Linked DNA regions of Homo sapiens. The protein of the gene in region 2 purifies or fractionates together with the protein of the main gene of each other region. This does not show direct contact. Each region holds a gene or a part of one and is shown on either strand. Other genes may lie near its edges.

Region 1 (3,751 bases), on a different chromosome or scaffold from region 2:
TTAAGGTTACTGCAAGAAAAGGTAGCACAGTCAAGAGGGATGATTAAGAGAGTACTACTTGCAAAGGTATGGGTAAAATTAAGGGACACCAGCACGGGGTGGTGGTGCATGCCCCTGGGGCTGGCAGTAGTGGGGAGCCTCAAAGGGCAAGTGAAGGAAACCTGGAGAGAGTTGAAGCTGTGTCTTAGAGGAGGGCTGGACAACAAGAACTACAGCCATCACTAGAGAAACTCTGCCACTGCATAGCCAGCTGGATGGTCGGAAGAGGGGTACCCTGTTCCCTCTGCCCTCTAATCTCCTGCTGGTACTTTCCATTGGTTGAAGCCAACTAGAAGCCAGAGGGCAAGGGAGCTTGGCTGCTCTCCTCAACAGAGGTCAGCCTCCTAGGGAATAGGGCAGGGTGGAAAAGGGTCGAAAGCAGATCTAGAGGGGGCAAACAGAGAATGTAAATATCTAACACAGTGGGAACAGAGGGAAATGTCTTCAGGGATAAAGCTGGGTTGTGTTTTTTTGTTTGTTTGTTTGAGGCAGAGTTTTGATCTTGTTGCCCATGCTAGAGTGGAATGGCACTACCCATGGGTTCAAGCGATTCTCCTGCCTCAGCCTCCTGAGTAGCTGGAATTACAGGCATGAGCCACCACGCCCGGCTAATTTTATATTTTCAGTAGAGACAGGGTTTCTCCATGTTGGTCAGGCTGGTCTCAAACTCCCGACCTCAGGTGATCTGCCTGTTTCAGCCTCCCAAAGTGCTGGGATTACGGGCGTGAGCCACCACACCTGGCCAAAGCTGGCTTTTTTAGGGCCCAGATGTGATATGCTTATTTCTTTTTTTTTTCTTTTTTTTTTTCGTTTTTTTTTGTTTTTGAGACGGAGTCTCTCACTGTTGCCCGGGCTGGAGTGCAGTGGCGCGATCTCGGCTCACTGCAGCCTCCGCCTCCCAGCTTCAAGCGATTCTCCTCCCTCAGCCTCCCAAGTACCTGGGATTACACGTGCCTGCCACCACGCCCAGCTAATTTTTTGTATTTTTGGTAGAGATGAGGTTTCACTATGTTTGCCAGGCTGGTCTCAAATTCCTGACCTCGTGATCTGCCTGCCTCAGCCTCCCAGAGTGCTGGGATTACAGGCGTGAGCCACCACACCCGGCCGATACGCTTATTTCTTTATAGCATGTAATGACATAAGCACATAACATCTACATGTCAAACTCAGATTAGCCAAGAAAACTAAATCTAAAACTTTAAAGTATAAATTGCTCGATATTTTTAAGGGTGAAATAACGTATCTCAGCAAGAACAAAGATGCCATTGGAGTGGTCAAAGGAATTTGTACCTAAGGGAATTTCCAAACTGAATTTAATGGGCTGCCGTGGTCTGCTTGGATCTATGTTCTTTTCTTTTCTCTTTTTAAAATAATGTTGCTTCAGATATCCTAAAGAAGGATATTGTAGGAGGTGGAACGTTTCTGGTGAAAGTAACTGTACAGTCTTTTTAATCGTTGTGTTTGGGTTCTGCCCTGCATTTAGGTATTATCCTGCTTGGTACAGATCGCTTCAGTCAGAAGATCCCTGTTTAACAATGCAGAGAGGGCCAAGTTTCTCTCTCATCTTGTTGATGGTGTTAAACGAATACTGGAAAACCCACAGGTAAGTTTATCTGAGAATTTACATATGTATAGGATTAGTGTATGGCCAGCTGTTATGAGTCAGAAGGAAATCCATCCCAAGGCCCAGTAAACAATTCAGTCTGTTCTTCAGGGAAGACTGAAGTGAATCTCTATTTGTAGGCCAATTCTGAGATTATTTGCCCAAAAGAGGAGCTTATATCCTCCCGCTTCAGAAATGTAGGAGTTACAGGAAAGAATCACTTCGCTATAAGGAAATAAGGAAGAAGCTAGTCATTTTTCCCCCCAAGAAGTTAAGACTCTAACATCTCCGGGCACAGAGGCTCACGCCTGTAATCCCAACAGTTTGGGAGGCCAAGGTGGGCAGATCACTTGAGGTCAGGAGCTCAAGACCAGCCTGGCCAACATAGTGAAACCCTGTCTCTACTAAAACTACAAAAAAAATTAGCCGGCCATGGTGGCACGTGCCTGTAATCCCAGCTACTCGGGAGGCTGAGGCAGGAGAATCGCTTGAACCCGGGAGGCAGAAGTTGCAGTGAGCCGAGATCATGCCATTGCACTCCAGCTTGGGCGACAGAGTAAGACTCCGTCTCAAAAAAAAAAAAAAAACTAACATTTGGTTTTTGATTTTGTTTACCATTTTTAAAAAATGTTTATCGGTAACCTAAGTATATAGGGCTGCTTTTAGGTGGGAAGGAAGATACTTCTTTCAAACGTTAATTTCATAACTCGATTGCCCTTTTTGTCTTTTGAAGTCCCAGTGATTCAGTATTTTTTTGAAAGTATCACTTCTCTATACTAGAAGAAAATTAAAAAGCAGTTTATTTCAAAATATACTCAGTTTTGTCCCTCTTTTTAAAATTCATTTATTCATTCAACAAATTACATTGAATACCTACTCTGTGCCAGGGATACACGGGTGAACAAAACAAAGTCTTAGCCCACATATGCTAACAGAAGAAGACATATCAGGAAACTTACAATTAAATATACTGGTAGAATAGATTTTAAAATAGCTGTAATATTTGCTATATCATATAAATACTACTATATGAATAAATTACAGTAAGTGATATAAATATATGAAACATTTGTATAACTTTGCTAACTATCGGTTAGTTGTGCTGAATGATCAGTTTGACAGACGTGGAAATGAAAATTTCATTAGATTTCCTTTGATTGGTAACAATAAGAAAACAAGTCAGTCACGTCTTAGGTCGTGCCCACTTCTGCTATAATGAGCTTTACAGCCTCAGTGTGATCCTCCTGGGCTTCTGTTTCAAACTCTGTCCATTGAGGCTAATAATGTCATCTCATGTGATTATTATTGTGAACATATGAGATAATAAATGTGACTGTCCCTTTTCAAAGTGACTTTAAAAAATTGTTTCTGAACATTATGCAGACGTATCATTCTGAATCATGACCTGCAGCCCAGAAGTTAAAAAGTAGATTCTACCCCTTCCCCCATGCCATCTCAAGTATACATCATTCTTGAAGTATGTTAAGGCACATTTTACATTTTATTTTTCTCCTCTGCTACTGCCAGAGTTTATCAGACCCAAACAATTACCATGAGTTTTGCAGACTACTGGCCCGATTGAAGAGTAACTATCAACTGGGAGAATTGGTAAAGGTGGAAAACTACCCTGAGGTCATCCGATTGATAGCCAACTTCACAGTGACCAGCCTACAGGTTTGTCTTTGATTACTTGTGTCTTCCTTCCTAAATACTGGAATCTCTTGCTTGTTGGTTTTAACCATGTAAGAATATATTTTTTTTTCTTGGCAAAGGTAACCATAAGTCCAGTATAGCCCTACAGAGTAGTTACTATTGTGGCCTGTGATTTACATTTACACAAGTGCAAGTAGTGTGGGGAGAGGAACATGTGGGAATTACTAGGATAATATTTAGATTCATCCCAGAGAGAATTAGCTCATAGTCACCCCAAAAAAGCCAAGGTCGGAACAGGGAGCTAGACAGAAGAGTAAAAAGAGAGTTGATGCCCTCTCTTTCTTAGTCATGTAATATAGAACAATGGGTCTCAAATTTTATGGCTTGTATCACAGTCATCTAGGGGACTGATGAAAAAATATAGATTCTTGAGTCTTATCCCCATAATTTCTGGTT
Region 2 (3,751 bases):
TACACTGTAATGTACAGTCAAGCATCACTTAACAACAGGGGCACATGTTCTGTGAAATGCATTCTTAAGCAATTTCATCATTGTGTGAACCTCATAGAATGTACTTACACAAATCTAAAGGCTGGGTGTAGTGATTCACACCTGTAATCCCAGCACTTTGGGAGGCAGAGGCAGGGAGATCACTTGGGTCAGGAATTCAAGACCAGCCTGGCCAAAATGGTGAAACCCCATCTTTACCAAAAATACAAAAATTAGCTGGGCATGGTGGTGTATGCTTGTAATCCCAGCTATTTGAGAGGCTGAGGTGGCAGGATCACTTGAACCTGGGAGGCAGAGGTTGCAGTGAGCCAAGGTCTCACCACTGCACTCCAGCCTAGGCGATGAAGTGAGACTCCATCTCTCAAAAAAAAAAGTACTTACAGAAATCTAGATGGTATCGCCTACTACACCCCTGAGCTATATGGTATGACTTATTGCTCTTAGGCTATAAATCTGTATGGCATATTATGTACCGAATACTGTAACACAATGGTATTTGTTTATCTAAACATAGAAAAATTACAGTAAAAATATGGTATAAAAGATTTAAAAATGGGGCCAGGTGCAACGGCTCAAGCCTATAATCCCAAGGCTTTGGGAGGCCAAGGTGAGAGGATCACTTGAGGCCAGTAGTTCGAGACCAGCCTGGGCAATGTAGCGAGACCCCCTATCTCTATTTTTTCAAAAATTAGGCACAGTGGCACACACTTGTAGTCTTAGCTACTTAAGTGACTGAGGTAAGAGGATGCTTGAGGCCAGGATTTCCAAGCTGGAGGCTGCAGTGAGTTATAATCATGCCACAGCACTCCAGCCTGGGTGACAAAGTAAAACGCTGTCTCTAAAAAAGAAATTTAGAGAAAAAGATTTTTTTTTAAAAAAAAGGTACACTTGGAAAGGCAGCTCCATTATAATCTTATGGGACCATGACTGTATCTGTGGCCTGTTGTTGACCAAAATGTTGTTATGCAGCACATCACTCTACCTTCAGGTTCATCTGTTTGTATCTCCCACTAAACTATGAGCTTTGGGGTGGCAGTGTCCGGTCAGTCTTGCTCTCTCCCTTCTGCTAGCTTTGTTTCTAACACTGTTCCTTTATATAATGAGACCATGATAAGGATTTCGCAAATGAATAAACTGACTTCCTCCAGGGCAGGAGTCTTGTAATATTTATCTTTCTTTTTCCAGTTCCTAATATATAATAACCACTCAATAATTACTAGTTAAGCAAATGCATGCCCTCTTCTTACTATATCCCTGTGAGTCCAAAGATCCATGCTCGGTTTCCTATTTCTGATTAACTGAGTCACCTTTAGAAAAGTAACTTTAAGCCTCAATTTCCTTCTCTGTAGGATGCAGTAATACTTCCTCATCTGACTACTTGGAACTTTTTAAGCAAAAATAAACTATATGGGTAAAAATTACTCAGCTTTTACCATGTGCTAAAGGCCTGATGTATATTAAAGAATGTAATCCTCATAACAAACCTTAAAGTAGGTATTGTTATCCCCATTTTACAGATAAGGAAACTGAAGAACAGAAAGTTTAATTAACTTGGCCAATACCACACAGCAGGTCAATGTTCCAGATCTGAACCTAGGGGCTCTGATCTGAACCTATGCGTTGTGAGTGCACTGTAAGGAGCTCCGGAAACGTGATGTGGGGCTCTACATTATCTTTATCCCGGCCCTTTCACTCCATCCCCGCTCCCGCGACTCGGAGTCCGCTGCAGTGCGGTACCTGTGCTCTAGGCGCTGCCCTAGGAGCCAGGAGCGGCAGATACTGCCTCCCCTTCAAGGCCCTCAACGGCGGAAAGAGCAATCGCTGCATACTGATGACAGGGAACAGCCACCTCTTCCACAACCCAGGGCTCTGTGGTCTCCCTCCTCCGCCAAGGAAAAGAGAAGCACTTCCGGGTCGGGCAGCGGGAGCCCCGCCTTCTCTGGGGACCGGAGCGAACAGAAGTGCGCCTGCGTTGCGACTCCGCTTTCGCGGGGGCTGCTGGGGCGTAGGTGTCGGGGACGCGCGCACGGGCGCGCGCAGCTGTTGACGCGCTTCTTAGCTGGTGCGCGCCGGAGCCCAAATTCCAAGTGGAAACTGCAGGCGCACGAGGGAGGAACGCGTGGAGCATGAAAAGGCAGGGGGCCTCCTCTGAGCGAAAACGAGCGCGGATACCGTCCGGGAAGGCCGGTGCGGAAGGTGGCGGGGGAGGGGACGGTCGGCCGAAGGCTCCCCGGGGCGGGCCGGCGGGAGTCGTAGTCAGTGGTGATTTCTTCTGGAGTCGTTTCCTCAGCTCCTTCCAGCCCCTTGGGCGGCACCTTCTATCTTTGAGGCGTTAAAGGTGTGGAAACGGAGGGCGTGACGAGGGGCAGGTAGCGAGAATGGCTCAGCTGTGGAGCCAAGGTTCGAGTCCCGGGGTCCCCTCATAACGGCCCTGCGACCTTGTGCAAGTTGGTTAACTTCAGCTTCACGTTTTTTCCGTCGCCACACGAGGATGCCAGTACCGCCCGCACCAGCAGCCAGTACTCCGCTGGGATAGTTAATTGTCGAGCGCGGAGCCCAGTTCCTAACCTGCAGTTACCTGTAGCTGCCACGGCGGGGACGGGGCTTGGTCCCCAAAGTCACGCAGCTACCAAGTGGCCGAGCTTGTGGCTGCTCCAAGACCCGAGTTCTTCCTGAGTGCCAGGGTAGCATGGCATGGCAGGTGCCAGAGAATTTGGCAAGTCCCTCTTCCTCCGTGAAGAGGAACCTTCCTAAAAGTTATCAAGAATCCTCAAAGATTTTTTCTTTATGTGGATTACATCTATCTATTTTGACTGTATTAGAAATTAAAACAAATTTTTTTTTGGGAGGCCGAGGGGGACAGATCATCTGAGCTCAGGAGTTCGAGACCAGCCTGGCCAGCATGGTGAAACCCCGTCTCTACTAAAAATACAAAAATTAGCTGGGCATGGTGGCAGGCGCCTGTAATACCAGTTACTCGGGAGGCTGAGGCAGGAGAATCACTTGAACCCGGGAGGCGGAGGTTGCAGTAAGCCGAGATCGCGCCACTGCACTCCACCCTGGGCGACAGAGCGAGACTCCGTCTCAAAAAAATAAAAATAAAATTAAAACAAAATTTTAAAATATTGATTAGAAAATAACCATAGTAAACCCATTACATATTGACATAATATTTTTTTGAAAAAGAAATATTCCTAAACAACAACAACAAAAAAAGCAAAAGAGTGGAAATATATTTTTGCAAGTTTCTTCAGTATATCTTAATGGAAGACAGCTGGATTCTCATGCCCGCTGCTTCATTCAGTCTAACATGTCAAGTAGCCTCTTGAAAACGCCTCTTCACGGAGGTTGCAGTAAGCCGAGATCGCGCCAATGCACTCCATCTTGGGTGACAGAGTGAGACTCTGCCTCAAAAAAGAAAACGCCTCTCACTTGTGAGAGAATTAAAGTGAAAAAGTCAAATAAAGTGTTAGAATTATTAAGAAAACGGTTGTAGCCCTGCAGACTCTGAAAAGTCTCAGAGGCTCCCAAAGCTCTCTGGACTACTACACTTTGAGAACTGCTGCTGCTTCTCCTTTGATCCTATAACTTTGTTGCTTGGGACAACTGCCTTGCTCTGCCTTCTGTCATAGCCTTTTTTATACATCTCTCCATCTTCTCCTGCCTAGGGTCCTTTCTTGTGTGAGGCAAATAGTCCCCCGGCAGCATCAGC

The links. The genes of interacting proteins can lie anywhere in the genome.
Region 1: the proteins of CUTC (region 2) and XPO7 purify together in Homo sapiens (co-immunoprecipitation; 2 studies listed by BioGRID and IntAct, with this or other methods). This does not show direct contact.

What each region holds. Positions count from the first base shown.
Region 1 is NC_000008.11:21,978,562-21,982,312, forward strand, and holds part of XPO7 (exportin-7), read left to right. Parts: intron 1-1,522; coding exon 1,523-1,642; intron 1,643-3,169; coding exon 3,170-3,316; intron 3,317-3,751.
Region 2 is NC_000010.11:99,730,184-99,733,934, forward strand, and holds the start of CUTC (copper homeostasis protein cutC homolog), read left to right. Parts: upstream 1-2,050; 5' UTR 2,051-2,165; coding exon 2,166-2,226; intron 2,227-3,751. Other genes in the region: heme A synthase COX15, read right to left, coding at 1,777-1,866. UniProt on the Homo sapiens protein: May play a role in copper homeostasis. Can bind one Cu(1+) per subunit.